Homo sapiens: one gene and its partner. The protein of the gene in region 2 purifies or fractionates together with the protein of the main gene of each other region. This does not show direct contact. Each region holds a gene or a part of one and is shown on either strand. Other genes may lie near its edges. The genes, in order: ABAT and SYBU.

The links.
Region 1: the proteins of SYBU (region 2) and ABAT purify together in Homo sapiens (affinity purification with mass spectrometry; one large-scale study listed by BioGRID and IntAct). This does not show direct contact.

The regions. Positions count from the first base shown.
Region 1 is NC_000016.10:8,681,117-8,684,938, reverse strand, and holds part of ABAT (4-aminobutyrate aminotransferase, mitochondrial isoform 1 precursor), read right to left. Parts: intron 1,681-3,822; exon of another isoform or gene 1,388-1,680; intron 1-1,387. UniProt on the Homo sapiens protein: Catalyzes the conversion of gamma-aminobutyrate and L-beta-aminoisobutyrate to succinate semialdehyde and methylmalonate semialdehyde, respectively. Can also convert delta-aminovalerate and beta-alanine.
Region 2 is NC_000008.11:109,638,229-109,642,050, reverse strand, and holds part of SYBU (syntabulin), read left to right. Parts: intron 1-3,822. UniProt on the Homo sapiens protein: Part of a kinesin motor-adapter complex that is critical for the anterograde axonal transport of active zone components and contributes to activity-dependent presynaptic assembly during neuronal development.

The DNA of each region.
Region 1 (3,822 bases), on a different chromosome or scaffold from region 2:
CAAATTCTGCCTTGTCCAACCATGTTTGCCTCTGTTTTGAATCTATTTAGACCTCCCTTTACTCTTTACATATTTGTGCTTTATTTGACTTTTCCTTTGAACTGGTTCTAATGTCTGCCTGGTTCCCTCATTGAATGAGCCTAATAAAATCATTGAGTGTTTTTGTATCTGTATGAGATTCATGATTTTACCCTCCACCTTTTTTTTTTTTTTTTTGAGACAGGATCTCACTCTGTTGTCCACGCTGGAGTGCAGTGGCATGATTATGGCTCAGTGCAGCCTGGCTCGGCCTCCTTGACTCAAGCGACCCTCCTGCCTCAGCCTCCTGAGTAGCTGGGACTACAGGTGCACATTACCACACCTGGCTAATTTTTAAAATTTTTTGTAGAGAAGGGGTCTTGAGGGGTCTTGCTATGTTGCCCAGGCTGGTCTCAAACTCCTGGGCTCAAGTAATCTTCCTGCCTCAGCTTCCTGAGTAGTTGGGACTACAAGCATGCATCACCATGCCCGGCTAATTTTAGTATTTTTTGTAGAGGCGGGGTTTGGCCATGTTGGCCAGGCTGGTCTTGAACTCCTGGGTTCAAGTGATCCACCCACCTCGGCCTCTCAAAGCGCTGGGATTGCAGGTGCGAGCCACCATACGCTGTCTATCCTTCCTTTTTCCCCTGCGATTTTCTTGGAACGGCTTCCTATGAACTCTCTGGGCCTGTTCATGATGCTCTCCCTGCACAGAGTCTCTTTCTCTTCTTTTCTGCCTTTTCCTCCTGAAATTTCTTCCCTAGAATCCCCAGGAACAGGGAGTGGTAACCTCTTTTTACTTTGAGCTTGAACCTGTATTCACTCCCACACACCTTCGGCACTCTCCTCACTGTGTGGTCCTTGTTTTGGGGCCTGTTTCCGCATGGCTAGTCTAGAAGAGGCGCTGGTGTAGTAGCTGAGTCTTTGTCTCTCCCTCCATCTCTCTCTCTCTCTCTGTCTCTCTCACACACACAGACACATAGACACGCACACACCCCTACTACTGTACACAGCACATGGAAATCATGCAATAAATGAACACACTCATTGACGAATGAATGCCAGATGGCTACGTCTGTCCACTCCAGATAAGCCATCAAAAGGGAGGCCTGGCTTTTCTTGTTCAATACTATAGATACCAGACAACCATGCCTGGAGTCTAGTAAGTACTCAATAAACACTGGTTGGATGAACAAAAGAATACAACTTAAGTTCTTGTTCTTGCATCACTTTCAAGTCATCTCCCCTTTCTCCAGTTTCAGAGGACAGACCTAAGTAGCTTCAGAATGCTCCCCCTACACCCCATATTTTCAGTATCATAGCAGCATTTCAGTTCTTTTCTCTCTCTCTCTCTCTCTTTTTTTTTTTTAGAAACAGGGTTCCACTATGTTGCCCAGGCTGGAGTGCAGTAGCTATTTACAGGCATAATTCCACTACCGATCAGCACAGGAGTTTTGACCTGCTCTGTTTCTGACCTGGGCTGGTTCACCCCTTCTTAGGCAAGCTGGTGGTCCTCCACTCCCAGGAGGTCACCATATTGATGCCGAACTAATGCAGACACCTGACTGGTATAGTACAGTACGGCCCAGAACTCCTGGGTTCAAGCAATCCTCTTGCCTCAGCCTCCCGAGTAGCTGGGACTACAGGCATGTGCCGCCCTGCTCAGTGGATACAGCATTTCAATCCTCTTGATCCCATTCCCTTTAAGGAGTGGAGAGTGATCTCCACTCTGCTTTCATGGTCATCGTGTGACCTTGGGCAAGGCACTGCTCCTCTGGGCTTCTGGTTTCCCACGGGTAAAGCGAGGCCAGTGTAGACATTTCAAGAGATAACGTCAGGCAAAGGTACAAATGGCCAGTAATGCCTGAAAGATGCTTCAGCTCAGGCACCAATTACATGGTAACAGATGCTGTCAATGTAACTTATCAGCAAAGCTATCCCTAGCTTAGCTCTGAGTGTGGGGTTTACAGATCTGTCTAAAATACGCTTCTCAAACTTAAAAGTGCACACAAATCACCCCAGGGGATATTGTTAAAACGCAGATTCACATTCTGTAGTTCTGGGTGGGGCCCAAGATTCTGCATTTCTAGCTAGCTCCTAGAAGATGCAATGCTGCTGGCCGCTGGACCACACTTTCAGTAGTAAGGTACTAGAATACAGTGGGTCCCACCTTTGAAGGAATTCTCAGTGCAGCCCAGGGACAGAGTGCTGGCAAGTTGCTGATATCCAAGATAATAGATGTTAGCACCTAAATGGGAGATGCTGGCAGTGAAGATTACGGGACCTCTGGACAAGGACAAGGTTGGCAGGGGTCGGGGGCTGGTCCAGGATTCCTAGAGAACATGGAAATAGAGTTGGGAGCATTCTGGCCGCCGGTGATTCTACTAAATCATAATTCTGGTGGGCAGGGGCATCAATCTGTGTTTTAACAAGCTCTTGAGGGGATTCTGATGCTAAAGTTTGAAAAACACTGTGCTAGACAGAGATAAAGGGGCAGGCTACTCTGGTTGGAAGAATAGCGTTCTGTTTTCCCACAGTGGAATTTGTAAATTGGATTCATTTATTCATCCATTCATTCACACATGTATCCATCAATCTAGCCAACCAACAAAGGGGTTGTGTCTGTCCATCCATGCATCCATCTACACCCCCAGCCATCCAACATCCAACAAATACATCCTGAATGCCTCCTCTGTGTGTGTGTGTGTGTGTGTGTGTGTGTGTGTGTGTGTGTATCCTGTTAGGCACAAGCAATCTGATTGAAATTATAGATATACACGGCTGTCTTAGCCTCTAACCGGTGATTCTCAACCAGGGGCAATCTTGTTCCCCAGGGGACACTTCATAATGCCTGGAGACATTTCTGGCTGTCACAACGTGGAGGAAGGTATGTTGCCAGCGTCTGGTGGGTGGAGGCCAAGAATGCTGCTAAACATCCGGCACAGGACAGCCTCGCTTCCACGTCAGTAGTATAGAGGTGGGCCAGGAGAGGTGGCTCAGCCTGTAATCCCAGCACTTTGGGAGGCCGAGGCGGGTGGATCACCTGAGGTCACAAGTTCAAGACCAGCCTGGCCAACATGGTGAAACCCTGTCTCCACTAAAAATACAAAAATTAGCTGAGTGTGGTGGCGGGTGCCTGTAATCCCAGCTACTCAGGATGCTGAGGCAGGAGAATCGCTTGAACCCGGGAGGCAGAAGTTGCAGTGAGCTGAGATTGCACCACTGCACCCCAGCCTGGGCAACAGAGCAAGACTCCATCTCAAAAAAAAAAAAAAAAAAGATAGCAGTCATTGGATTAGGGGCCACTCTAATGCAGAAAGACCTCATTTCAACCTAACTATTTCTGCAAAGTCTCTATTTCCAAATTAGGTCCTATTCATAGGTTCCAGGTAAACATGATCATGCCACTGCACTCCAGCCTGGGCAACAGAGCAAGACTCCCTCTCAAAAAAAAAAAAAAAAGTGTAGAGGCTGAGAAACTTTGCAGTAGACTGTGAGTTCCTGATAGGCAGGAACTGGTGGTATTCCCAGGATCACAAGATAGTGTGTGACCTACAGGAGCTGAGCAAATATTTAAGTGGATGAAGAAATAGTGACACAAAGAAACATTTATTTATATAAAGAACTCTGGGCCAGGCGAGGCAGTTCACACTTGTAATCCCAGCACTTTGGGAGGCCGAGGTGGGAGAATCGCTTGATCCTAGGAGTTCAAAACCAGCCTGGGCTACATAGGGAGACTCCATCTCAACAACAACAAAAAAATGCTTTTTAAAAAATTAGCCAGGTGTGGTGGCACCTGTTGTG
Region 2 (3,822 bases):
TGGTTCCAAGTCTTTGCTATTGTGAACAGTGCTGCAATAAACATACGTGTCCATGTGTCTTTATAGTGGAATGATTTATAATTCTTTGGATACATACCCAGTAATGGGATTGCTAGGTCAAATGGTATTTCTGGTTCTAGATCCTTGAGGAATCGCCACACTGTCTTCCACAATGGTTGAACTAATTTACACTCCCACCAACAGTGTAAAAACGTTCCTATTTCTCCACATCCTCTCCAGCATCTGTCCATTCCTGATCTTTTAATTACTGCCATTCTATGACTGTTTTTAAAGATGCATTCCTTTGTTAAATGTAGAAAAAATATTGGATTGAATTTTATACTAGCAACTTCTAGAAGCCTGTGTACCTCTAATTATAAAATTCCCCAAAGATAAAGCAATTCCTAATAAATGAGGTCAAGATCAAGGAGAGTTATAGCCTAAGGCTGGCCTGGCCTTATGGTTTAGTAGGGAAGAGCCCAGGCTTTGTGATCTGTCAAGCCTGAAGGGCTGGAATCCCTGGCCCTTTCACCACTTACATACTGTGTGACCTTCAGCAAGTTGCTTAACCTCCTTAAGCCTTAGTTGTTACATCCATAAAATGAGATTATAATACTTGCCTTGTAGAGTGGCTGTGAAGTTGAATGAGACCAGTACCTAAATGTTCACCTTACACGGTACCTGGCTTACAGAAGTGCTTAATAAATGATGGTTCTTAATACAAGGAACTATGGATGTCTGTTTGGGCACGTGATTAAGAAAGTTTCCTTAAAGTTGTGAGCATGTTTGGTAAGGGCACAAATCTCTTGATAGTTCCTGAAGGTGCCACCATTATCATTTGACAGAGCTTTTTATTCCCATTGAAGCACATGACTTAGAAGGAGTTACTTGAGAAGTATTAGGAATTTGGGTAAAATTTAAAGGAGTGACTGTCTTATGACTAGTGAAGAATGTTTCACAGTGGATAATGTTTTAGAACTTATTTAGGGAACATGGAACTTGAAGATTAACACATGTATGAGAAGAAACACATGAATCAGGATGCTATGATTAATGCTCTAATTTAGCAGGACCTAACATTCCACTGCATTTAGGGCTCACAGCTACATTTTTCAAGGATTTTATAAATGCAGCTTTGGATTTATTACATACTTCCACAAAGTTATTCTGTCCTCTGCATAAGTTGTATGTTGGAAATTCTGCACTGCCTACTTTTTTTTTTTTTTTTTTTGCTAACTAATTTTTTGCTAACAATTTGCTAATCAAATTGTCTGCTTGATTCTGAAAAAAAAAACCCTATCAAAATATTATGTTTTAAAACTTATTTCTTTATATTTGAATCACATGAATCTAGTTTAAGATGGAAACCCACTGCTGCTTTGCCTACTATTCCCCCAAGAAGAAAACAAAAGGATAACTGAGAAGCTATCACAGTTAGTATTCCTAGAATCTAGAGTCATATTTGCAGAATGTAATGCTGTTTACTTTAACTCTGTTTTGGAGCCCAGAGCTCACCCTGGTGAGTGTGGATGAACTCTGGGCACGTCATTTCAAACTGACAGAGCTTTGTGTACATAACTCAGTTCCACATTTATTCCTGGTATTCTCTCCCTGTAATCAATTCCTCTGTGAGGGATTTCAGGGTGAGTAGTGTTATCAGAAAAAAAGAAAAAGTTGTTCAAAACAACAACAAAAAAAAGGAAAACCCCAAATATATTTTAGAATATATGAAGGCAAACCAATATGATTATTGATTTTGGTTATGAATCATTCTTCCCCGGACCCACTTCCTGAATCATCCTCCTTCCTAGGAGACCTGTCTCTGGCTAAGGCTATAATGCTGTACATGAAAATCGAAAGTAGATATTGATCTTTTTGCTATTAACTAGATGAAAATTGAGTGGCAGAAGCATATAATTATGGGTGTCTCTGAACAACCTTTCAATCTTGAGCCTTGCACCCTGCCTGCAGATAGGATTTCCTCCATTCCTGGGCCTCTCCCTCATCTCTCTTCATCTTCCTGTGCTGTCAGTTCCCCAAGGTTTGAGTCTAATGCCTTTCTCTTCCTTTCCTACAGAACTCTGATAAACCCCACAAAGGCTTTTGAGTGCTGTGTAGGCTAAAATTGACAGCAGCAAGGCCTTTGGGGGCATGTTAATGATGCTTTAGGAGGCCGGTTGGTGGGTGGAAAATAAATGGGTTTGGTACTACAGGGAGTGTTAACGCTGGAGGCAGTGAGATAGAGAATGTAAGACATGTCCAACCAGCAGGGGGAAATCGCTCGTTTTAATCCAGCCACTCCAACACTGAGGCCAGAAGGTGTGTTCGTTGTTTAATCACGGCAGTTAAGTCAGAGAACAAGGTGCATACAAATATTAAAAAATACCATCCTTTACTAGAACAAAGCTAAAATAATTTAAAGGGATCTATTGTCATCATAGCTTCGCAACCTTCCAGTAATCCTCCTGTATTAGCTTCTCTTCTTTATAAATCATCACATTCACTCATGTAAAAGGGGCCATGCCTAGTTAAGGGAATTCTTACAATCTGGTAATGAAATTATAGAGGAAGGTGTCACCTCAAATGCAATGAAATTTAATTTGAAAATTACATTTTCAGAACTGCAAACTGGAGACTCTTTCCTCAAATCTATATCAAAAGCATTAATTATGAAAAGCGTCATATGTTCTAAAATTTTTACTTTTTTAAAAAAGATAATGTAATGAGCTTCATAAACATTTATAAACATTTATTTAATACAAAGAATTATACTTTATTTTGAGAATCTGGCTTTTCTATCATTTGTAATGAAACAAAAATTCATGATAGTGGATGGTAGCTATACTTCAGCAAAACAAATGTCAACTCAATGTTGATGTTTTCTCTACTCCACCCTCAAGTTTTTCTTATAATTTTACCGGCCTGTGAAATGAAAAGAATAGAACTATTTCCAAAGTGATCTGTCCATTTTTACCCACTTTCTGTTTTCCCTCCGCACTCCACTGCCTCCCTCTTGCTTTCCCATGGGAGCTTTGGCAAGGAACATTTAATGACTTGATATTCTATATGCTAATTTGTATGTTGTCTCTGCCTCATTTCAGAGGGAAGAAGTTGTGTGTGACCTTTTGCAATTCATTTGGGGTGTGTCCCCAAAGAGCTTTGTTTTTTTTAATCGCTTCTTCTTAGCGAAATTTCTTTGAAGATCTGCATGTGTTTTGTGCATTTCATCAGCACATGAGTGTTTTTGTGCTTGGACATCATTCTAGTCTTCAAACAGTATTCCTCACAGTTTGTACTCAGTCTTGGTCGCTATGACCTTAGTTGGAGACAGTTAAGTTTATACAGTATTAGAGGTCAGGCCCTATTTTATGTGCACAGCAAGTAGAACATTGTACATTATTAATAAATATTAATTAATGCTTTATTTTAAAAATACGTAAGGAAGTACAGTTAATAGGAAGTTAATAGAAACAAAACACCTCCTTTCCTGTCCCCTTTTAAAAAAAAAGTTTTTTGTTTGTTTGTTTGTTTGTTTAAACCAGCGTTTTGGCATAAAGTCAACCTGTCTTTTCTCCCCCATGTTTCTTGTTTTTAACACAAGAAGTGATAAAGCCCACATTGTTGGTTTGTGTTCTGGGTTTGGCCCATTGAATGTAGCCTCTATCCATTTTTCTCCCCCTTTTCTGTAAGTAGTGAATTGTGTTTGTTACTGTACCATGACCCTAGCCACTGTTAGAAAAGCCGATGACCTAGGTGAGTGTGTCAGGCACATACATCAGTCACCTGACATGGTTAGCAGCATGCCGTGCATTCCTCTTTGCT